7 linked regions of the Homo sapiens genome follow. The protein of the gene in region 7 purifies or fractionates together with the protein of the main gene of each other region. This does not show direct contact. Each region holds a gene or a part of one and is shown on either strand. Other genes may lie near its edges.

Region 1 (3,500 bases), on a different chromosome or scaffold from region 7:
AGTGTGTCAGATATATCTCAATACCGTGTTGAAGTAAGATGCTTTGGTGTTTGCTAGTATTTAGAGTGACCCTTGAGGAACATAAAAATTGGAAGTTAAATCAGAATTCTGTTTTATTTCATTCTTATGATGTATTTTAAGTTGCATTGACCTTTTTGTTTAGATTTTTTAAAACAGATATTACATATAAAGTATCTTGTTAGTCTGTGGTCTATTTTCATAAAGAATGATTTAAAATCATAACTACTATCCATTTATCCTTGCCAGTCTTATTTCACTTATAATAGAATAATGGCTTTTACTTTGTACTATAGAATCTTCTTGAAATTAAGCCTTTGCTAGTTTCAGTGAGCAATTTAGTTTTTAGTTTAACTAAAGTTATTGCCAGTTCTAGTTAAATAATGGTTCTTTTTTAGTTTTTGCCCTCTTTTACGATATTTGCTCTTGATTGGAATTTATCTGGTTGACCTGTGCTTATAATAGAAAATATTTAAGCAGGGAAGTAATTTTTAAATTGCTCTTATTTTCAGTTTTCTACCTATGTCAAGCATGCTTAATCAAATTTAAACAGTTTTGTTTCAGTAAGTGGTTTTAGTGGATTGAATAGTTTGACAGTTCCTATAGACTAGAATTGTGCTGTTGCTACAATCAGTGTCCATAGTTTTGAAGCTCCCATACAGATAGCCTGCTGTTTAAATGCTGCTATGTTCAGCATTTAAATAACCATAATAGAGTGTCAAATAGGGGAAAGTTTATTTTAAGAGAATATTATTTAAGCTGTTAAGAATTTGTTTTAATGTCATGTTTATGTAGTTCAACATGGCTCCGTATGAAACAGATTTAGGTATCTTATGAGTCAAAACACCATTTCTTCTATTCAAAAAAAACCTTGGTTGGCTTTATTCTCTCATTAAAATAGTCATGAAGTTTTAAGAGTACTTTGTGTTTGTCGTTCTCTGCTAGCTGACCTCAGGTTATTTGATTTTCTTTTGGAAAATGTATACTAAGAGGTTGTATGTGTTTGTATGTGTTATAAATCTTTTTCCTTTTTGCCAATTGTAAGCACTTGACTACCTTTGTCCTGGATCGGAAAGATGCTATGATCACTGTTGATGATGGAATAAGGAAATTGAAATTGCTTGATGCCAAGGGCAAAGTGTGGACTCAAGATATGATTCTTCAAGTGGATGACAGAGCTGTGAGCCTGATTGATTTAGAATCAAAGGCAAGTGTGTAAAATTTATACTATTTTATTTTCAAGAAACTCCACAAATATTAATGTTTACAATCATTTCAGATTGTTTGAAAATGGATGGAAGTTTGACAAAATAAAATGTTCACTTTATTTATAGAATGAACTGGAGAATTTTCCTTTAAACACAATCCAGCACTGCCAAGCTGTGATGCATTCATGCAGCTATGATTCAGTTCTTGCACTGGTGTGCAAAGAGCCAACCCAGAACAAGCCAGATCTTCATCTCTTCCAGTGTGATGAGGTTAAGGTAAAAGAATGGTGAAATTTTTGTTTCTTCTTTAAGCAGATTGTCTGGGAGCTTTTGAATTACCTATTTTGATAATATATCTGCATATTAGTTACTAGATTTTTAGTTTCTGAGCATCTCGTAAGGAAAACAAATACCTTAGTATCTTCTCTAGGATTTCCATGGCAAGTAAATAAAGAAATTAGGGTGATGTTAATCAAATCAGTAGTTCACACTTGTAATCCCAGTGCTTTGGGAGGCCAAGGCTGTAAGATGGCTTGAGGCCAGGGGTTTGGGCCCAGCCTGGACAACATGGCAAGACCCAGTCTCTACTAAAAAGGTTTTAAAAATTAGCTAGATGTGGTTGTACACGCTTGTAGTCTCAGCTACTCAGTTGGCTAAGGGAGGAAGATCTCTTGAGCCAGGAGTTGGAGATTACAGTGAGCTATAATCACCCCTCTGCACTCCAGCCTGGGCAACAGATTGAGATTGTGTCTCTTAAAAATAAGATGCATTCTGTTTATTTTTTTAAAGTGTAGATAATATATTAAATTCACATCAAATGCCTTAAACTTATAATTAAAAATTGATTGTTCAGAAATCTTGCTTTGTGGACAGTAAATAATCATGTAATTTGAATTTATTCTGCACTAATGACATAGCATGGATTACTGCAATGAAGTACTTAGACATTTCCCACGATATTGATTTAAAGTTCACCATTTAATTATGTGACTTGATTCATTGCTCAGGATTTGTAATTCCCAGATGATATGTGAAAATAGTTGAGCCAGTAATAACAGGCTATATCCTGAAAGTTTCTATTTCAAAGTACAGTGTAATTTCAAATGATTATAATTTGTGATGCTTTATTGGACCTTAGAAGTTATCTTCAACCTTGAATGTGTTTATTTCCTCAGTTGTTTTCTTTAAAAGAGAAATCATTTTGTGTTAATTGGTACTTTGCCAAAGCAGTGATTTAACATTTTGATGATATATTATAAAATATCCATGTAATTTTATTTTATAAAGAAACTCTAGGAGATTAGCACAGTTACTTGATCTTTTCTGTGTTTTTTGACATTTAAAGATGATAGATAAAGTAAGATTGACTGTAAACTGTATTTTATAATTTTCTTCTAATTTCAATTTACGTCATGGATGACTTTCTAAAAACCTTCTTCTAAAAGAACTGGCATTTAGGTAATTTGTGTAAGTGATATTCATCAGATTTTTGTATAGTGCCTTTTGAAAGTCATAGTATATTATAATTTTTGTAAGGTTAGATATATTCAGTCAATAAATATTAAAGGGAATATTTTGCTTTAAAAATATAGTGAAATTTAATTCAAACATTTTTATAAACCAGAGGCCTAAGTTGAAAAACATTTCAAATTTGATGTTTGTATCTGTGTTCTAAAAAGCCCCCCCCGGGAGCTAAAAGTTACTATGCTGTGAAAAGTTTCTGGATTTTAGGTTTGGGAACAAATGGCTTGCTTTACTTGATATGGAATGGTAATGATAATGGATTCAAAATGTATTTACTGAATATAGTTTTGTCCTAACCCCAAAAGCTCACATACCACGAAGCACTGTATGCATTTACTCATTAGTTTCATACTCTGCATATGAGACATTTTTCGCTTGGCTGGTTAAAAATATAGAGGCAATGAAAAACGCAGTTTCTTTTATATGGCTCATTGTGCAATATTGCTTTTGATTTTTAAAGTTTCTTTATTATAGGACTTCATGCAATGCTCCTGCCCACCTTTGCAGTAAAATTTTTCTTAGAAATATAATAGCCCCAGTATAAGAAGTTGAAGATTCCTAGGCATCTTCAGTTTTCATTTTGGGTTTTTTTAAATAATTATTTTTAATTAAATATCTTTTCATCTTCAGTTTTAGTATCCTATGTAACAGAAAGCCTTTGACACGATATTTGTAATGTCTTATTGAAACTAAATGCTCTTAGGAAGTCACACTGGACTGGGATGCATTGGCCTCTCATTTAACTAGCAA
Region 2 (3,500 bases), on a different chromosome or scaffold from region 7:
GCAGTGGAGCAACATGAGCAGATTTGTATTTTAGAGAAAAGCTCTTTGCTGCCATGTTGAGGGATGATATGAAGGGCAACAGAATAGAAAGGAGTCATGCAGCAATCCAGGGGAGAGGGTGGAGAGAAAACAATGGGACCAGTCAGGGGACATGTAGGAAGTATATCAACAAGCTTTAGTGGTTGCGGGGTATCGAGAAGGGAGGAATAGAAGAAGACACTCAGATTATTGACATTCAGTCGGAGGTGACTGTGGGACATAAGACTAGAGATCTAAGTAGGACGGTTGGGTATTTACATGGAACAAAGGAAGAAAATACAGGCCAGACATAAGGATTTGAGGGTCATCAGCGCAGAGGTGGATTAGGGCTGTGAGAAAGAAAAAGAACATCACAGCTAGTGTGAAGAGGATGGAGCTTTGAGAAACTCCAGCATTTGAGGGACTTACAGAGGAACAGCAGCTAGAGAGGTGGGAGGAAACAGGGCATTGATGTCCCAAGGGAAGGAGTATTTCAAGAAAGATGGAGACATCATTAGTGTCAGGTGTTCCAAGGAGCTTACATTAAAGGTTTGGCAATGAAGTCACCGGTGGCTCTGATGGAAGCTGGTCAGTGGGATCAGGAGCCAGAGGGCAATGCTTTCAGAAAGTCAGGCTTGAAGAGAAGCTGGGGAGTATACCTGTGATGGCAAGGGGTGTCCAGTATGGTTTTATTAGGTGAGGAAAGAGTTAAAGGGACTTAAATGCTGACGGTTGGAGTTAGTAGAGAGGAAGGATGAAGATGTGGGAGAGGGAGGTGCTGCCTGGGTGTGGTCCCTGAAAGAGGCAAGAGGAGATGGGATCCAGAGCTTAGGTGGGTGGATTGGTCCCATTGTCTCTTCTGTTGTGACAGGAGAGAAATAGGAAGGATTGGGCACCCAGGCAGGTAGGTTTGTATTTGGGGTATGAGGAAGTTTGCTCTAAAAAAGGGGAAGGGCCAGGGAACAGGTTTGAGGAGAGCAGAGGTTTGAAATAGCTTGGCCGCCAGGAAAACAGCCTAGCCAGAGACATCTTGGAATTTGTAGTGATACAGTCTGTGGTTTTTATTCTTGTAATATAGGAAACATGGTTGTAGGAGCAGAAAAAGTATACAGTTAGCATTATTCACTCATTCAACACATAACTGATTGGGCCTTGGTGGTTGCTAGGTGACATACCAGGTGCTGGAGATCAGTTGACAGAATGAACTTGGTCTCTGGGTGGCATTTTAAGCTGAAATCTAAAGAATAAGTTGGAGTTAGCCGGGCCTGGAAGGTGGCAATCTTTTTCCAAAATGAAAATGGTTGTTCTGGGTAGAGGAAAAAGCATGTGCAAAGTCTTGAACAGAAGGATCAGAAGAGAATGTGGCTCACAGTGAAGGGGGACAGGAAGGGGTGGGGACCAGATCTCACATGCCACATTAGCCTAGGGAATTGGGAACCCCTGAGGAGTTGTAAGATTTGAGAATGACATAAGCTTTGCATTTTTTAAAAAGCCTGAGCATTAAACAAATGTCAGGTGCTTGCATGGTTGTGTACTTGATTCATTGATAAAATATGAAACAAAATGTATGATTCTTTCTTGGAGAAACTATAGTCTTTTTGGATCATGGTTTAAGTATCCTTAACAAGCAACAGATCACCACTTTAAAGGTAACATAGTTTGACCAAGCTCAAGGAATGTCATGGGGACTGATCTGAGATGGTGTTTATGGGTTCCTGTATTGCACGTGTTGGAGGAGCTAAAGAGGTGGTTCCGACCAGGGGGAGGGTGGCAGCTCTGGCTCTTCTGAAAAGGCCTACCTCCCATGGGTGTGTGAAAGGAGAAATATCTTCTTGACCCAGCTGGAAACCTCCCTGCAATCCTGCCTTCTTTTCCAGAATGACCAGAGCTCTCATGGACTCGCTTGGGCCTGAGTGGCGCCTGAAGCTGCCCTCAATCCCCTTGGTGCCTGTTTCAGCTCAGAAGAGGTGGAATTCCTTGCCTTCGGAGAACCACAAAGAGATGGCTAAAAGCAAATCCAAAGAAACCACAGCTACAAAGAACAGAGGTGAGCTGTGACTCCCTGCCCAGAGTCTTGCAATCTCCCACTATCCATTTTCTTTAGAGTAGTCCTGCAAAAATTGGCATTGTTTAGCTGAGTTATAAAAATAATCTTAGGAACAAAGTATAAAACAAAATACAAGTCTTCACCTCTTAGAGACTGTTTTCTCAGCTGTATAGTGAGGGTGATGATAAAGTCTTCCTCACAACCATGAGGACTGAATGACATAAGACATGTAAAACTCCCAGCCTGGCACATAGGCATGCAGTGTGAGTTCCCTTCTCTTTCCTCTGGTAGCACTTGGGATGTAGTACTTAGGATGTTTTTGGTTGCAAAAACAGAAAGCTCAACATGGTAAACATAGTATAGGGAATTTATTGGCTCATAAAACTGAAAAATCCGAGAGAATTCAGGCAAGGTTTGCTCCAGCAGCTCAGTATATTAACAGACTAACTCCATTTTTCTGTACTTATCACAGCTTTATTTTCTGTTGTGCGTCAGCTTTGTCTTTGGCAAGCTTCCCTCCTAGTAGCAAAATAGCTATAGCAGTTCCCGGCCTCACATCCATACCCCATGCCTCATGACCCAGAGAAAGAAAGTCTTTCTCTGATAGCTCACTAGGAAAAGATAGGATTTTTTTCCCCCAAAAAACTCTAGCTCACATATTTTCTCAATCATTTTCTCAATCTATTCTGGTCTTCATGGTCACAGGCCATTCCCTGAAGTACACACCATAACCGGCGGATGAGATTTTGTGATTAGGTCACCCTGAGGCACCTGCCCCACCTCCAGAACTAGAGGGTGATGCTTCCCAGGAGCATGTACACTGTGTGAATCCCTGGAGAAGCATGAAGAAGAGAAAGGAGATCCAAGCAGCCAAAAACAGGAGATTCCTCACCTCAACTGTATGAAATGAAGAGGCCATTTGTCAGGCACTAGGAAGCTCTTTTAATGCTCCAGGGGAATGGTCCCAGCCCAGCAAGCTAGGGATTCAGGCTAGAGGTGCAGAAGGGATCAGAGATGGAGCCCTGCCATGTGTAAGTGACCTATAGGTGTTAGGGGAGGACAAGAGTTACTCACCTTCTACAGGAGAATGCCTCTCTGGTCATGGGTAGCATTCACTCTGGTTTGTGGGAGCCTGGTAAGTGTTCCCCACTCTTCTCTAGGATGAAAATGTGCGGTGCTAATGAACCTGATGGCATCAGTGCCATTGATTTCATTCTTTCAATCAGTGCACCTACCATTGATTTCATTCTTTAAATCAGTGCACCTACCATTGATTTCATTCTTTCAGGGTCACTGAGCCATGTGTTCCAAGCCATGTGTATGCTAAGCAGTGTGACACAGAGGACAGTCTTGGCCCTCAGGGAACTCTCCCTCAGTTGAGGGACTGAGACATGTAAACAGTGTCTTAAAACACAAGGAGGAGGAACATGTGCTT
Region 3 (3,500 bases), on a different chromosome or scaffold from region 7:
GAGCATTGCTGCGTTCACTGTTTGCATTAAGCGTCGAAGATTTCACTAATCTGGTTGAAACTAGCATTTTGCTTTGCCTGTCTTTTAGGGTTATTCACAGTTTCCATAGATGCTTTCTGAGGAATGGTAAAATGTCTGGGAGCTTGCCTCAAATACCTCAAGGTAAATTTGCATTTACCTTGACTTGCCAGCTGTATTAGTTTCTTAGGGCTACTGTAACAAATTACTACAAACTGGGTGACCCAAAACAACAGACATTTATTCTCTCACAGCTCTGGAGGCTAGTAGTCCAAAATCAAAGTGTTGGTGGGGCCATGTTCCCTCAAAGGCTCTTGGGAAGACCTTCCTTACCACTTCTAGCTTCTGCTGGCTGCTAGCATTCCTTGGTGTTCCTTGGCTTGTGGTAGCATAACTCCAATCTCTGCCTCTACCTTTCCTCTGTGTGTGTCTGTATCCAAATTTCCCTCTTCTTATAAGGACATCGGTCATTGGATAGGGCCCACTGTAATCTAGTATTACATTTGATGTAATCTGGAAAGACCCTATTTCCAAATTAGGTCACATTTACAGGCTTTGGGGAGGATACCATATTCAACCCAGCACACCAGCAGGCTTGCATATTGGATCCTCTGTTGGATCACTGGGAAACTGGAATGAAATTTCATAACAGATTGGTGACTGAAAGGGTGTGAAGCACCCTTTGAAGGTAGTAGGAAATACAGTTTATTCACAAGTGATAAGCTTATTGAAGGGCAGTTACTCATCAGCTGCTACTGAGAAGCTGGTCCAGAGAGAAGCTTGACAGGTGGTACAGCGAATGGAGCATCGGTGTCGCTGTAGTCCAGGCTAGATAAGAGAGTCAGTTGCAGCTTTGTATGTGGAGGTGTTCACGCCTTTAAAGCAAGCTTGTCCAACCTGTGGCCCAGGATTGCTTTGAATGGGACCCAACATAAATTTGTAAACTTTCTTAAAACATTATGAGATTTTTGGGGGATTTTTTTTTTTTTTTTAAAGCTCATCAGCTGGCCAGGCGCGGTGGCTCACAGTTGTAATCCCGGCACTTTGGGAGGCTAAGGTGGGCGGATCACGAGGTCAGGAGATCGAGACCATCCTGGCTAACACAGTGAAACCCCATCTCTACTAAAAAACAGAAAAAAGTAGCCGGGCGTGGTGGCAGGCGCCTGTACTCCCAGCTACTCGGGAGGCTGAGGCAGGAGAATGGCGTGAACCCGGGAGGCAGAGCTTGCAGTGAGCCGAGATTGTGCCACTGCACTACACGGAGCAAGAGTCCGTCTCAAAAAAAAAAAAAAAAAGCTCATCAGCTGTTGTTAGTGTATTTTATGTGTGGCCCAAGACAATTCTTCCAGTGTGGCCCAAGGACGCCAAAAGATTGGACACCTCTGCTTCAAAGTCACAGTAGATTCCAGGGTAGGTAGGAATTGAAGTTCCTGAGTAAGAAGGCAAAAACTTACTGCACGCGATGGTTCTGGAGATTCTTGAGGAAAGGGAATTTTACCTCTCACCTGGAATTTGAGCAGCTTGGTGAAGATAGAATCTCCTTGGGTAGGGGTATTGGGAGAGATGGCTTGTAAGGGAAAAAGAGAGAGTATGTCTGGGGAACAAGTGATATCTGGTTCTAAGTGGATCTTGGGGGACATTTGCTCTCAAGTAACATCTCTTTGAAGTAAGGAAAGGACAAGTCCCAGGTAAAAGAAGGTAAGTGTATAAGGGTAAGGATCCTTCAAGGAAACCGTTCTGATTTAAATTTCAAGCTTTTGTGACTGAATTGAGATTACTCTTCCCCCTTCTCTGGAAGTGGTACTATATGACTCAGTCAGGATTGACTATTGCTGTTGTGTGTGTAGAATGGAAATCCAGGCTGGGCATGGCGGCTTATGCCTGTAATTCTAATACTTTCGGAGGTCAAGGTGGGCGGATTGCTTGAGCCCAGGAGTTTGAGACCAGCCTGGGGAACATGGTGAAAACCCACCTCTGCAAAAAATACAGATATTAGCTGGGCATGGTGGCATGCACCTGTAGACCCAGCTACTCGGGAGACTGAGGTGGGAGGATCACTTGAGCCTAGGAGGTAGAGGTTGCACTGAGCCAAGATTATGCCACTGCACTCCAGCCTGGGCATCAGAACAAGACCCTATCTCAAAAAGAAAAAAAAAAGAATGGAAATCCAGAGGTGTCCAGTTCCTTGTATGTGTCTGGCAAGAGGCCACTTCGTCCTTTCATTTGCAGAAAATGAGATGGGAGGCAGAGGCAAACCAACATTTCTAGATTTCCCTAGGTTAATTTATTTTAGGAAGGGGCAGCTCTGCATTGACACAGAAACTGAGGGCAGTATCTTTATCAGCAAGACTGCTCCCTGTGCCTTCTTTCCCACCATGCCTAGCCTGGAGCAAAAGCTCAGTAAATAGTTACTGAATAGAACTGATAAAAGGCAACAATAGTATCTTTTCCAAGAAGCTTAAAATGCGTCACAGTTTTCATTTTGCCTGTCTCCTCCAGTCTGCAGAAGATCATTTCATTAAGTACTTAGCATTTATATCACCTATGTTCTGTATCTAATTCTCTTAGGTGTCCCCCGGACAGTATACCCTGGTGGTTTGCTGTCTACATATCCCCTGAAATGTATATGCAGCTTTCCTATTCAAATCATTCTATTAAAGCAGAGGTGTTTCCATTTACTGCAGCCACTTCTACCTGAACATAATGTTCAGGTAGATGATTGAAAAATGCTCTTTAGGGAGGACAATTAGAAAAACAAAACAGTAGTTACTATTTCTGTCTGTGTGGACCTTATTTTTTCCTCCTCTGCTAAATCAATGTAATGACTCATTATTAGATCTATTTAGTTTAATCAGTGTGTTTATTTTACATTATTCACATGGTAGCTGCATTGCCAGGTCAAAGACTGACATCTGGCCAGAGTAAAGAAGAAAAGGGATGTTGTTGTCATGGCCACTGTTGCATCGTGATCTTTTGAGTATTTTCAAAGGAGTTTGAAGGTATTTTCAAGTGTAAATACATTCTTACAAATTTGCTGTCAAATAACTTTTTGAAGTAAGGAGAGGCAGATGAGGTCATTTTGTTCTCTTTGGTTGTTTTTCACGGGAAAACTATGGTCTAGACCCTAAGAAAATTCCTTCTCTCCTTAGCTGTGCATCTGGTGTAGGCTCCTAGCCCTGCTGCAGCCAGTTGCTTTGGAAGTTGCCAGGCTCCTTCACCAGTATCACATTAAAGGCGCCTTCCTCTCCACCAGGTTTAATTCTTTCCTAAATAGGCTATTTGCCCTGAAACACCATCGCTTTCCTGTCAGCCCAGATTCATGACCTTAATCAAAAGCTTCCTTTATCGGTATCTGTTTAAATTGCTCTAACAAGTTACCATTTGTCTGGCATGAAGGAGAAATTGAGTCTTTAAGTAGGAATGAGTTTATTTCACCACAGTCGTTAAGCAGGATGTGATGTTTATTAAAATTCATAATTTAT
Region 4 (3,500 bases), on a different chromosome or scaffold from region 7:
TGCCTGTAATTCTAGCAATTTTGGAGGCCAAGGCAGGTGGACCACCTGAGGTCAGGAGTTCAAGACCAGCCTGGCCAACATGGTGAAACCCTGTGTTTACTAAAAATACAAAAACAAACAAACAAACAAAAATTAGCCAGGCTGGGTGGCCGGCGCCTGTAATCCCAGCTACTTGGGAGACTGAGGCAGGAGAATCGTTTGAACCCGGGAGGCAGAGGTTGCAGTGAGCCAAAATCACACTACTGCACTCCAGACTGGGTGATAGAGTGAGACTCCATCTCAAAAAAAAAAAAAAAAATTGGGACCATCACCCTATATACAGTCAACTCACTGACTGAAACATCATTTTTTTGAGACGGAGTTTCACTCTTGTTGCCCAGGCTGGAGTGCAGTGGCACACGATCTCGGCTCACTGCAAACTCCGCCTCCTGGGTTCAAGCAATTCTCCTGCCTCAGCCTTCCGAGTAGCTGAGATTACAGGTGCCCGCCACCACGCCTGGCTAATTTTTGTATTTTAGTAAAGACAGGGTTTCACCATGTTGGTCAGGCTGATCTCAAACTCCTGACCTCAGGTGATCCACATGTCTCGGCCTCCCAAAGTGCTGGGATTACAGGCGTGAGCCACCAAGCCCGGCCGACTGAAATATCGTTATGGGGCTCATCACTATAATCATATTACAGTGTAAATGCTATGACAGAACTTGTATTTAAAGTATTACGTCATTGAAACCAAATGTTTATGAGAATGTGGCTGAACTCAACATACTAAGGATTTCTCTTAAATTTTACACAATACGTTTTGAAACTATTGTCCATGAATTCATTGAACCCATTTTTAGTATGCTTATATTTTCACCTGTACTACTTCTTAAAAGTAACAAGTTCTGTCAATTTACGTCAGCTCTGTAAAATAGCAGGGCATTTCCTTTTACTTAGTCCTAAAACTACCTTCTCTAAGAGGAGCCTCTTGGTTTTAGTACTCTAAGATTTTGTGAACTAAACATTAGAAACATAAATTATGATTATGTAAATTTAAAATCATACACTTAGCCTGTCTTTTCTTACATGACCCACTCAAGCATTATTATCTCTTGGATTTTTTTTTATACGACCACATGTAGTTATCTCTGTGTTACCAAGCCACAGTCCTATGTCACTTTTTTTTTTAAGAGATGGGGTCTTGTTCTGTCGCCCAGGTTAAAGCACAGTGGCACTGCCATCCTTGCTCACCACTGCAGCCTTGAACCCAGTGGCTCAAACGATCTCCGACCTCAGCCTACCAAGTTGCTGGAACTACAGGTATGCACCACCATGCCAAGCTAATTAAAAAAAAAAAATTTTAGAGGTGGGGTCCTTACTATGTTGCCTAGGCCTGTCTTGACATCCTGAGCTCAGACTGTCTTCCCATCTCAGCCTCCTGAGTAGCTGGGATGAAAGGTGTGATCCACCATACCCGGCAGTTTTGTATCACTTAAAGTCACATAACTTGCTTTTGTTTTACCAGAAACAACCCTTTAAATTTACCAGACTTGGTTATATATTATTTTTGGTTACATACAAAAATTTTAAAAATCAATCCCACCATTAAAGGGTTAGAATATGACAACTGGGGATATCAGAATTTCATCCAACAAATGTTTATGAGTGCCTCACAAGCATTACCATCTAGCTTATTTGCTAACTCCGCTTCATAGGACAAAATGTTAACATGTGCAATTACCATAGTCACGGAAAAGTAGCTACAATTTCTTATGTTCACAGCTTTAATAAAAGTAAAATATCTTATGGCTGGGCACAGTGGCTCATGCCTGTAATCCCAGCACTTTGAGAGGCTGAGGCAGTTGGATCACCTGAGGTCAGGAGTTCGAGACCAGCCTGGCCAACATGGTGAAACCCCATCTCTACTAAAAATACAAAAATTAGCCAGGTGTGGTGGTGCATGCCTGTAATGCCAGCTACTTGCGAGGCTGAGGCATGAGAATCTTTTGAGCCTGGGAGAAAGAGGTTGCAGTGAGCCGAGATCTCACCACTGTACTCCAGCCTGGGTGACTGAGTGAGACGTCTCAAAAAAACAGGTAAAATATCTTAAAGTTACCAATAAGTAGAAATAGAATACAGCATCCAGTGTCTTTCACTGTAGATTTCATTTTTCTTAACAAAGCCATAATGCCTACCTATAAGATAAAATTTTAGAGGTTTTAGTTAACAAGCAAGTGTACTTATGGTGATACTGTTCTGAGATGAGCAGATATCCATCTCTGCTACCTCAGGATGACACTTCATTTACAAAAATACTATACAATTACTGTCTCAGGTTTAGATTAGCAGCTAATTAATAACTGAAGTTATTTGGGATTCTATCCCATCCCCAATTCTCTACCCCACCACTAATGTTCTCGGAATCTATCATTCAAAGGGTCTTATCTCTACCATGCAGTTCGAATAGAATATTCATTTTTAGTTACATTTAGTCCCATTTAGTTTTGTTCTACTGCTGATTTTCCTATTCACGTTTTTATCCTACAACACTCTCTATCACATATACCAAGACTGCTCTTCAATGCCTTAAGGGAACACACAATCCCCCCGATTCTTCAGCATCCTCTCATAATCTGTCTCATCATTTCTAAAACCTTTGCAAAGATTTTTTTGCATTAAAAGGTGAGTCAACACATAAACATGAATGAAATTTACATACTAACCTATCTCTATTTTCTTTATGTCTTACAGCCAGGAGGAGTCTGTGGTTTTTTCATTTTTTTCCCCCCAAAGAGTTTCCCTGGTGATATATTCAATAATTAATGAACCAAATGAAATCTCCTGTTCATAAATTTTAATTCCCATAGTAAGGTTAACACAAACCATGAAAACTAATATCTAAGTTTAAAATTTTTAATTACTAAGTTTTTTGTTTTTTAGACCACACGGCAAGGAGATCACATTTTTCAGGGTGTTTTTTTTTTTTTTTTAACCTCTCAACCGCTTCCCTAGAGCCCTTTTAATACGTAATACAGATAACTAAGATCCCTTGTTGACAAATTTCAATTTCCTCAAGTACTTAACTGCCTACCATGTTCCATTTAAATACACAGTTTCATCGGCACGGTGGCATGCACCTATAGTCCCAGATACTTAAGAGGCTGAGATGTGAGGATTGCTTGAGCCTGGGAAGTCAAGGCTGTAGTAAGCCATGATCGTACCACTGCACTCCAGTCTGTGTGACAGAGAGAGACTCTGTCTCAAAAAGTATATACATGCATACATATATAATTTAATTTGCAGAATTCTAGAATGTCTTAAATTATTTCCTTATAAAAACTAGCCACGGTAAGCCTTTTTAACTATCCTAAACATAATGTATATAATTTACGTCACATGCCAATTAGACATAAAACCTCATTCAGCTTAAGCTGCCTTACTGGGTTTTTAATTTCACTTACCAAGTAGTTAATGACAAATTTTCATATTTTAAACAATCTCTGGGTAAAGGTGTTTAGTTG
Region 5 (3,500 bases), on a different chromosome or scaffold from region 7:
CAACTGAGTTTCCTGTTTGGGAATCCAATCTTCAAACAACATTGGTTAAAACTGATACAGTGACTTGTGTTTGTCCAATTTGGTCTTTTTCTGTAGCACTTGTTCTTGCTCTATCACGTTAAATCTTTTGTGGTTTCATTTGAAATGAAGACAGTGGTCTTAGAAGATAACTTTCAACCAGTTGTTCCTCCAATGTATACTAAAAATTAAGCTTTTCATGGTCAAATGTGTATCACCAGGGAATTTCCATGTCTATTGAATGTATAGTTGTTTAAAACTAATGATAAGCCACAGGATTGGCTTTGGATTATTTTTCATGCAATTACTCATTTTCCTGTAGTGACTTGGATATGCCATTTGCCAAGTGGACCAAGGAGCAGGTTTGCAATTGGCTGATGGAACAGGGCTTGGGCTCGTACCTGAATTCTGGCAAGCACTGGATTGCATCTGGCCAAACGCTTTTGCAGGCTTCTCAACAAGATCTAGAGAAGGTGACTGCTTCTCTGTTTTGTTCACACAATGGATACTGAGAAGAAAACAGTATGAATGTAGGGTTGTTTTATAGTCCAGAAAGGGCCATGAGTGAAGCCAGTAAAAACTCTGTAAACAAAAGTTTGGGTTTTCAATTGCTTCATGCTTCTTTTTTCTGGTGGTCTTGGGAGGACCTGGTCTTGATGATTCCTTATGGAACACTTAAGCCATTGGGCATTTTAATGAAAAAGAATTACATAAGCATAATTCAGTTCATATTTCTCGAAATCATTGTTTGGCTTTATCATTGGCCTGTTTTTCTCAGTGTAAGATATGCAATTAACTTCACTTTGCAAAAGAAAAAAAAAAAGCACCCTACAATTTGTGTCTAATTATTTAACATTTCTTCCAAATTATTTAATATTTTGTACAAAATAAGAGTCAAATTCTTTTTATGCATGCTACAGTTCCTAGCTTACAAAGAAAATGAGTCACTAGGGAATGCCTAACACACCCCTAAGATAATTGTGGTGGTCTTGGCTTTTCAGGGACCTTTTGTTCAACAACACTTTACTAGCCCAAGTTGGGATTGTAATTCAGTATTGAATTGGGTCTTTAATGCTAGCTTCATTTTGGAGAAATTTGCATCCTTTGCCAGTGGCACCCAGCCTATACAGATAGAATTATAAAGTCAATGTTTATTGTTTCAGGAACTTGGAATCAAGCATTCACTTCATCGAAAGAAACTCCAGCTAGCACTCCAAGCCCTGGGATCTGAAGAAGAAACCAATCATGGGAAGCTGGATTTCAACTGGGTCACTAGTAAGAAGTTTTTATTCTAACAAAATGAAATAATTATATACATAGTTGCTTTTTCTTTTTAATCACAAGAACAGATGTTTTGTGGCATGGTAGCAACACTGGCCTCTCTCTTTTAGGATGGTTGGATGACATTGGCCTCCCTCAATATAAGACCCAGTTTGATGAAGGACGGGTTGATGGTCGAATGCTACATTACATGACTGTTGTAAGTGACTCACTCCTGGGGTTTGGGGGAGGAAAACTTTTTTTCTCTGAAAAACACAGGAATTGAGTAAGCCAAACACAGTGTTTTCAGTGATTCCACCAGAGTTTGAAGCTGTTGCTTGAACTTGAGGAGAGTGGCAGGCATATTTCCCATGAGGCTGAAGTTGTAGCATTTGGTGATTGTGATTGAACAGGCTTGGGATAATTTGAAACCCCAATGTAAGCTAAGTGAAGCCTAATTTAAACTAAGCTCTCCAGAAGGTTGATTTTATATGTAATACATTCAACAAAGTAAACACTGAAGTGTACACTTTGAATGGGTACATTTTATGGTATGCAAATTATATCTCATAAAGATTTTTTTTGTATTATTTCTTTTGAGATGGAGTCTCGCTCTGTCACCCAGGCTGGAGTGCAATGACGTGATCTCAGCTCACTGTAACCTCTACCTCCCAGGTTCAAGCCATTCTCCTGCCTCAGCCTCCCGAGTAGCTGGGATTACAGGCTCACGCCACCATACCCAGCTAATTTTTTTGTATTTTTAGTAGAGACGGAGTTTCGCCATGTTGGCCAGCTGGTCTCAAACTCCTGACCTCAAGCGACCTGCCTGCCTCGGCCTCCCAAAGTGCTGGAATTATAGGCATGAGTCAACACGCCCAGCCTAAAGATATTTTTTAAATAGAATGTAGAATTTTTAAGCCCAAGCTATCTCTAAGTTATGGGTTTCTATGTGCAATGACCATTTGGAAGAGGCCACCCTTTTGACCTGACATCTTCAAGGACTTGTCTTCTCCTTTCCACTCTGGACAACTGTTACCTGAAACCCTATCACCCGTCTCACTTCAGCCTAGTTCTGCTACAGCAGGAGTTACTGGGGTTAAAGGAGGAGGGAGGAAGGCTAGACTTCTACTCTGGTTCCTTCATTATTGTACATTTCTAGCCCTCCAGCCAATGTGTAGGACTATTCCCTGCTTTACAGCAGTGAGAAAGATGGATTCCAGGAGAACTTTGTTTTAGGTTCCATACCACTATTAATGTTCTACTTAAAATTCTCTTTATTTATTTATTTTTATTTTTATTTTTATTTTATTTTATTTTATTTTGAGACGGAGTCTCGCTCTGTCGCCCAGGCTGGAGTGCAGTGGTGCGATCTCGGCTCACTGCAACCTCCCTCTCCTGGGTTCATGCCATTCTCCTGCCTCAGCCTCCCAAGTAGCTGGGACTACAGGCACCTGCCACCATGCCTGGCTAATTTTTTGTATTTTTAATAGAGACGGGGTTTCACCATGTTAGCCAGGATGGTCTCGATCTCCTGACCTCGTTATCCACCCACCTTGGCCTCCCAAAGTGCTGGGATTACAGGCGTGAGCCACCGAGCCTGGCCTTGTTCTACTTAAAATTCTTTTATTTATTTATTTATTTTGGAGACAGAGTCTCACTCTGCTGCCCAGGCTGGAGCGCAGTGGCACAATCTTGGCTCATGGCAACCTCCACCTCCCAGGTTCAAGTGATTCTCCTGCCTCAGCCACCCGAGTAGCTGGGATTACAGGTGCACACCACTGCTCCTGGCTAATTTTTGTGTTTTTGGTGGAGATGGAGTTTCGCCATGTTGGCCAGGCTGGTCTGGAACTTCTGACCTCAGGAGATCCACCTGCCTCGGCCTCCCAAAGTGCTGGGATTACAGGCGTGAGCCACTGTGCCCGGCCTAAAATTCTTTTATTTAAACAGCTTTTTGTGAAGTAGGCTATAGACCTAACTACCCTAAGTATAATCTTTTTCAAGTAAGTAGCAAGTTTTAAACAGCCAACTTAAGTAGGCATTTCTCAATGTCAAAAAAATTTGGAGTTCAGTTCATGGATTTTTCTTCTCTGTCATTGAACCCAAGCCCCTTACCTTGATGAGCACATCACATAAACCTGCGTGAAATAATACTAATATGTGTAGTATGTTGCACATTTGCTATGTGTCAAACATCCTTTTAAGCATTTTGCTCATATTAATAC
Region 6 (2,656 bases), on a different chromosome or scaffold from region 7:
GGTGGTGGTATAGACGGTCTTGGGGTAGCTGGTATAGACGGTCTTGGCGTAGCTGGTATAGACGGTCTTGGGGTAGCTGGTATAGACGGTCTTGGGGTAGCTGGTATAGACGGTCTTGGGGTAGCTGGTATAGACGGGCTTGGGGTAGCTGGTAGTGGTGCTCAGGAGGCGTGTGGGCTGCTGGTGCAGCTGGAAGCGCACCTCAGCCATGGTGTTGTGCCAGGTGTGGTTGGGGATGCAGGGGACGTTCCGGCCGCAGGAGGCCCCTGCCAGGCACAGGCAGCTGCGCGGTGTGGAAGAAGTGCCGCTCGGAGTCATGCTTGACAAGGAAGTACACCTTACTCCTCTCAGTGGTGAGGGGTCAAACCACTCCTTCCCAGCGATGGGGCCAGCAGCCTGGCGAGGGCTAGGCACCGGGGAGGGATGCTGGATTTGGAGCTGGGGGGAAGGGGTCACCCTGCATTGGGCTCCAGTGCTCCGGGTGCCATGCCTGCTCCCCCACCACTGCCACCGCAGCCGCTGCGGGACACCAGGGGCTGGGGCTGAAGAGCAGCCTCGAGCTGGGCTGTCCAGGACACGGTCGCCCTTCTTCCTCGTGTCCGTGAGCTCAGGCACAACCTGCAGCTTAGCCAGCCCACTATGGCTGCGTGCGTGGCAGGACCCGGGCCACCATGGCTGCGTGCATGGTAGGGCACATGATTATTTTAGCCTCTGGTATCACTAACCATCCCTAAAGTCTCCAATGGTCTGTTCCTGTCTTTCCCTCTGGTTCACTTGTGGGGTCATGTTGTCTTCTGTTCTTTGTTATTTATTTTTTTCTTGAGACGGAGTCTTGCTCTGTCGCCCAGGCTGGAGTGCGTTGGTGCGATCTCGGCTCACTGCAACCTCTGCCTCCCAGGTTCATGCGATTCCCCTGCCTCAGCCTCCCAAGTAGCTGGGATTATGGGCACCTGCCACCATACCCAGCTAATTTTTCTGTGTGTGTGTGTGTTTTGTTTTTTGGTTTTTTTTTTTTTTTTTTTGAGATGGAATCTCAATTGCTCAGGCTGCAGTGCAATGGCGCAATCTTGGCTCACTGCAACCTCCACCTCCTGGGTTCAAGAAATTCTCCTGCCTCAGCCTCGCAAGTAGCTGGGATTACAGGCCCCTACCACCACAGTGGGCTAATGTTTGTATTTTTAGTAGAGACAGGGTTTCACCATGTTGGCCAGGCTGGTCTCGAACTCCTGACCTCAGGCAATCCGCCCACCTCGGCCTCCCAAAGTGCTGGGATTGTAGGCATGAGCCACCATGCCTGGCCTAATTTTTCTGTTTTTAGTAGAGACAGGACTTCACCATGTTGGCCAGGCTGGTCTCAAATTCCTGACCTCAAGTGATGTGCCCACCTCGGCTGCCCAAAGTGCTGGGATTACAGGCATGAGCTTCTGTGCCCGGCCTGAACTGTTAAGTGTTTGTGAAGAATTATTTGGGGGCCTATTTGAGAGCTGTTATATGGATCATCCTCCTGGAGAGGGTTCTTAAGCCTCTGAGACCGGGTTTGGGGCTGAGGCTTTCTGACCCACACAAGTCATGCTGACCCCTGAAGGGCCGCAGGCCAGATCTTGCCAGGTGAGCACTTTCCCCGCTCACATTCAGGATAGGGCGAGGGGGTTGGTACCGATTCACCCTCAGGGCCTAGATTTGGGGGCTTCAGCTTGCTGCAGATAGGTGCTCCCTTCACTCTCACCTGAGGCTGGGCTGGAGCCTGGTGTCTGCCCCACCCTGCTGGTCAGCCCCCTAGGACCTGAGCCCCGTAAGCCTGGACTGGCCACGCCCTGGGGCAGCAGCACTGGGTGCTTGGCGCTCACGACCTTCCTGGGCCCCTGGGTCCCTCACTTCTCCCTTGTTTCTACCTTCCTGGCTTGTCAGATTCCCACAGCTCTTAAGGAGAAATTCAGTATTTACTGCAGCATGTGTTTTCAGTGTGATGGTTCATCTAGGTACCCTAGCCTGTCATTGCTGGAGTTGGAAATCTCTGTTGTCTGCTGTTGTTTTGTGAAACAAGCGCGTGAGGTTATAAGTTTCCCTCAACGTACCACACTAACCACATTTCCCTAAGTTTTGATGTGTAGTGTTTTCACTGCCATTCAGTTCAAAATATTTTCTCATTTCAAGTATGATGTCTTCTTTGATCCATGTGTATTTTTAAGTTGCTAAGTGTACTTACTTTGGCCGGGCATGGTGGCTTACGCATGTAATCCCAACACTTTAGGAAACTGCGGGGGGGAAGGATCACTTGAACGCAGGAGGCTGAGGCTGCACGTCACAGGGAGAGACGGGCCGCGGTGATGTACGAGCTTCCTGTTGATAGGCAGTTAAGTTGGTTCGGGATAACGTGGCCTGCCTGGCACGGGTATTCCCAGAGTCACAGATGCTCACCCGTGCCAGCGTTGGCTGCTTGGGACATGGGGACGGCGAGGTCCCCACACCCCACATGTGAGCTGCTGGTAGCTGGGCTGAGCCCAGGTCCCATCCGTGTGTGGGGCGTGAGTGTGCGGTGCCATCGGGTCTGCACGGGCCTCGCCTCGTCCCGGACGCTCCAGGCTTCCTGTGGCACGGGTGCCGAGAGGGACCAGCCTGGGCCTGCTGAACCGAGGGGGTGGTCTAGGGCAGAGGC
Region 7 (3,500 bases):
TGTCATCTGTGACTTCAGAGATGGGTGATATATATTTAAAAACAGGTCCTTAGTTTGGAAAGGCATGCAGTTATGGGCAAGGAAAAATAAAATGGGGGCAAATTATAAAAAATAAAATAAAGTCTCTGAAGTGATAGTGAAGACAGATCGCACCCGACTGTACTTACTTCCCCCTTGCTTTGCGATTGCTTTACATGATGAAGGTTACATGTAGTGCCATTGCCCATCCATGCCCATATTCATGCCCATTCCACTCATAGGTCCTAGAAAGGAGATAAAATCCAAGAAGAGGCCGGAAAATCAGCAATAATTGATGGTGAAAAAATAGAAGGAAACTCAGATTCCTTTTCACTTATTGCCTTGGTTTAAAAAGAAAAAAGAAAAAGGATGTGTATGGGGCAGAGTATAATGGTACTGTGGTAAAATCTTTACTTTTTCAAAGAGGAATTTTTTCCCCCACCCAATGTAAAGAAAGCAGGCAGAGCAGGCAGCAGGCAAATGTTAAACCCACCATGACAGTGGGATAGTAGAGTGGATGGAGAGGCTGGTGGAGCAGGTGGCACTTCCCAGGGAAGCCCAGAGGCGGGATGAGCCAACCTACCTGCAGGCCGGATCCCCATGTGTTGCTGACCATCCAACACAAAGCTCCCCATGGGCTGACCCTCTGGACTATATGCTGCTCCTTGGCTCACTGAAGGATCAAGAAGAAAACCTGATTGTGGTCATTCGAGGACACAGAGGAGAAAGAAGAAAAGATATACCAAACAATCAGCAATTGTTCCCGCTGCAGCACTGAAACGTTATAGCAACAATGTGGTTGGCACTCTACAAATGGGGGTGTGGTTTGTCTGAGTGTCTTGATGACTGAGTGAAGGTGTGTGAGTAGCTTTAAAAATGTTCTGGAAGAAAGACTTCACTGGCCAGTTTCCCAGGGGGTTCGTCCTCTGCAGCCCTTGCTTTTTTACTTATCTCTTGATTAGGGGGACGAAGGCTGGAGAAGTTAGGGGTACCCCATATACAAATATTGCAATGTACCATTTGGTTGGGATTCTCTGAGGCTGCCATCTCTGGTGGCTTAATACAAAATGTTCATATTTTACACAAACATTTTAAACCTGAATACAATTTCACAAGGTTAAATAGACTCAATTAAAAGCTTGCCTTTTTATTCACACCAAGGAAATATAAACTTAGTAAATATAATATTTCCATTGTTTTATGTTCTTCTCCCTAGCCTCCAATAGTGGGAACATATTTTGGCGTTATTGGGGAAATTTTGCCAAAGGATGACTAATTTTCACAAATCCTTTAAAGCGAGGCCACAGGTAAAATCTCCATCAAGTTTAACACCGTTGTTAGTGGCAGCAGTCATCACCCCAAGGAAAACTGTTTTTCCCTATAAGCCTTATTGCAGGAGACCACAAACCCTCAGTAAACTGAGGAAATGTCTGTTTCAAAATAAAACGACTTGGAGTATACCAGGAGGGTTCTGATAGTACCATACAAAAACTGTTTTAGAGAAATTGAGAGAATTCTGAGAAAAGCTCACATGTATTTTAGCAGCATGGATGTGAAGCATTTTATACAAAGGTAATATTCTTTAATAAAAAATAATGGTGGCAATGCAGCAAGTCAGGCTTTAATAGGATATTATGAATAGCCAAAGCAAATGAATGGATACAATAAGTTTAACAGCAGATGCTACAGAAAGGAAAGCCTAGCATACACCAAGGAGCTGTGGGTAACAGAAAAATGAGAGTGTGCTAATGATTGGATGCAGACAAGCAAGGGGTAATGCCAGAGCTCACAAACACGCTGCTTGTGGCATTAATACCTGTGCCCAATTACCAATTCAGAAAGAAAATAAAAAGCAGTGTCAGTAGAGTCAGGGTGGGAAATCTCCAATTAGCACCACTTACTGAAGTTGCTTCCTTGAGTGGGATTCTGGGGACATTAAAAAAAAAAATCCAGAATGCCTGGTGGAAGCACTTATTTATCAGATGAGGAAACTACTGGAGTATAACTTGATGAGGATTTGTGCCTGTGGGACATAAATATAGATACTACTTGGAACTTGCCTGCTCGATTTGACTGGTCAATCATGGGCTGTACTATTCTTCTTCTGGCATTAATAAACCTGAAAGAGAACAGAGAAGTCCAGTCATCATACTCCGTTTCTGTACTCTGCGAACACCTTTGCATGAATGCTGAGGAGCACAAAATACAGTCAAATCTCTTCTGAAAATTATCTTTTCAATTTAAAGGTGATTTTCCCTTTCAGCGTTCAAAAATAGTTGACTGGGTAATCTCCGTCGTCACTGCGTAGTCAACTCCAAAACAACTTGCTAGAAGAGCTCAGGGACGGAATAAAGTTCTCCATGAGAAAGCTTCTATTAACTTCAAATTGTGCTTCTGCTTCTTGCACAAGTAGGAATCTGGTTAAAGTTCACAGGCTGGAAGACTTTCCCCCTTTCCCTAGACTCCCCGTGATAGGGAGACCCAGCTTCCCCTTGCAGCTGGTCATAAATGGAGACCAGGCTCTAGCACTCGGCTTTCACAAGGTATTGTTAGGTCAGCAAAGCCATCAATTAGGCTGTCTGAAGTTTTATCACCAACACAGCAGTAATAAGTGCTGGCCAGAAAGACTTCTGCTCTTCGGCAACTCCTGCAGTTTAAGCCTGTAAAGTTAGGGGTCATTCAGAGGTCAGTGCCAGCTGGGGGCAGCCTTTCCAGCCTAAGCTGGGACACCCAGGGCAGAGGATAAGGTAACTGCCAACCATAAACCCAGCCACCTTTCAACCCACTAGAAAGACAGAGCCTCAGGTACACATGTTTGATATTAGAGCTCAAGAAACGTTTGCAAATCAGGTGGTGGCTGAATCGCAGGAATGCAAAGGAGAAGCAGTTATTTCATCTAAGAAGCCTGGATCTAATTTTGTTGGAAATCCAAAAATAAGTGCCTACTTCATGTTACTTTAATGTTTAATAATGCCCATCAAATATTCATGTACAAACAGAGTAAGATGATAAGAAATCTCCTTTATTTCTCCAAATTTAATAAAAACAAAACAATTTTCTACCATTTGTGAGTTACCCTTGTCCCTGTGCACTTAACGACGTGTATTCCCCACACATTTGAGCTCATGCACACGATTCACTGACCACGCATTTCGGAGGAGCAGGGAGCATCCAGCTAGCTTCTCCCTAAAAATATACCCATTGATAACATCTGTCAATATTTCCAGTTTCAGATCTTAAGCACAGGGGGACTTCATGATTAATGAGTCCACCTGGGGCCACAGGCAGGAACTGAAAACTCACTCTTTGAAATTAGCCAGAAAAATTCAGTGTGTGCTGGCAGCTCTGTGTTCCGAGGAAGCTGAAGTCCCTTTGGAGGAGGACAGTCAGGCCCCACTCGGTCGGGCCTCCTGTGAGCACTCTGGTGGGAATACAATTAAGCTGAGGAATAATAGCTGGGAGAAAACCAAAGGAGTCTTTTG

What was found.
Region 1: the proteins of MEIS2 (region 7) and EPS8 purify together in Homo sapiens (affinity purification with mass spectrometry; one large-scale study listed by BioGRID and IntAct). This does not show direct contact.
Region 2: the proteins of MEIS2 (region 7) and TOMM34 purify together in Homo sapiens (affinity purification with mass spectrometry; one large-scale study listed by BioGRID and IntAct). This does not show direct contact.
Region 3: the proteins of MEIS2 (region 7) and CMTR1 purify together in Homo sapiens (affinity purification with mass spectrometry; one large-scale study listed by BioGRID and IntAct). This does not show direct contact.
Region 4: the proteins of MEIS2 (region 7) and GNB4 purify together in Homo sapiens (affinity purification with mass spectrometry, with the first as the bait; one large-scale study listed by BioGRID). This does not show direct contact.
Region 5: the proteins of MEIS2 (region 7) and PPFIBP1 purify together in Homo sapiens (affinity purification with mass spectrometry; one large-scale study listed by BioGRID and IntAct). This does not show direct contact.
Region 6: the proteins of MEIS2 (region 7) and LRPAP1 purify together in Homo sapiens (affinity purification with mass spectrometry; one large-scale study listed by BioGRID and IntAct). This does not show direct contact.

What each region holds. Positions count from the first base shown.
Region 1 is NC_000012.12:15,667,389-15,670,888, reverse strand, and holds part of EPS8 (epidermal growth factor receptor kinase substrate 8), read left to right. Parts: coding exon 1-33; intron 34-1,063; coding exon 1,064-1,225; exon of another isoform or gene 1,226-1,229; intron 1,230-1,352; coding exon 1,353-1,502; intron 1,503-3,500. UniProt on the Homo sapiens protein: Signaling adapter that controls various cellular protrusions by regulating actin cytoskeleton dynamics and architecture. Depending on its association with other signal transducers, can regulate different processes.
Region 2 is NC_000020.11:44,950,398-44,953,897, reverse strand, and holds part of TOMM34 (mitochondrial import receptor subunit TOM34), read left to right. Parts: intron 1-1,895; coding exon 1,896-2,065; intron 2,066-3,500. UniProt on the Homo sapiens protein: Plays a role in the import of cytosolically synthesized preproteins into mitochondria. Binds the mature portion of precursor proteins. Interacts with cellular components, and possesses weak ATPase activity.
Region 3 is NC_000006.12:37,436,221-37,439,720, forward strand, and holds part of CMTR1 (cap-specific mRNA (nucleoside-2'-O-)-methyltransferase 1), read left to right. Parts: intron 1-3,500. UniProt on the Homo sapiens protein: S-adenosyl-L-methionine-dependent methyltransferase that mediates mRNA cap1 2'-O-ribose methylation to the 5'-cap structure of mRNAs.
Region 4 is NC_000003.12:179,441,471-179,444,970, forward strand, and holds part of GNB4 (guanine nucleotide-binding protein subunit beta-4), read right to left. Parts: intron 1-3,500. UniProt on the Homo sapiens protein: Guanine nucleotide-binding proteins (G proteins) are involved as a modulator or transducer in various transmembrane signaling systems.
Region 5 is NC_000012.12:27,681,206-27,684,705, forward strand, and holds part of PPFIBP1 (liprin-beta-1), read left to right. Parts: intron 1-340; coding exon 341-491; intron 492-1,181; coding exon 1,182-1,293; intron 1,294-1,409; coding exon 1,410-1,498; intron 1,499-3,500. UniProt on the Homo sapiens protein: May regulate the disassembly of focal adhesions. Did not bind receptor-like tyrosine phosphatases type 2A.
Region 6 is NC_000004.12:3,503,112-3,505,767, reverse strand, and holds the end of LRPAP1 (alpha-2-macroglobulin receptor-associated protein precursor), read left to right. Parts: 3' UTR 1-2,156; downstream 2,157-2,656. UniProt on the Homo sapiens protein: Molecular chaperone for LDL receptor-related proteins that may regulate their ligand binding activity along the secretory pathway.
Region 7 is NC_000015.10:36,894,550-36,898,049, forward strand, and holds part of MEIS2 (homeobox protein Meis2), read right to left. Parts: intron 2,138-3,500; coding exon 2,079-2,137; intron 713-2,078; coding exon 602-712; intron 264-601; coding exon of another isoform or gene 205-263; exon of another isoform or gene 168-204; intron 1-167. UniProt on the Homo sapiens protein: Involved in transcriptional regulation. Binds to HOX or PBX proteins to form dimers, or to a DNA-bound dimer of PBX and HOX proteins and thought to have a role in stabilization of the homeoprotein-DNA complex.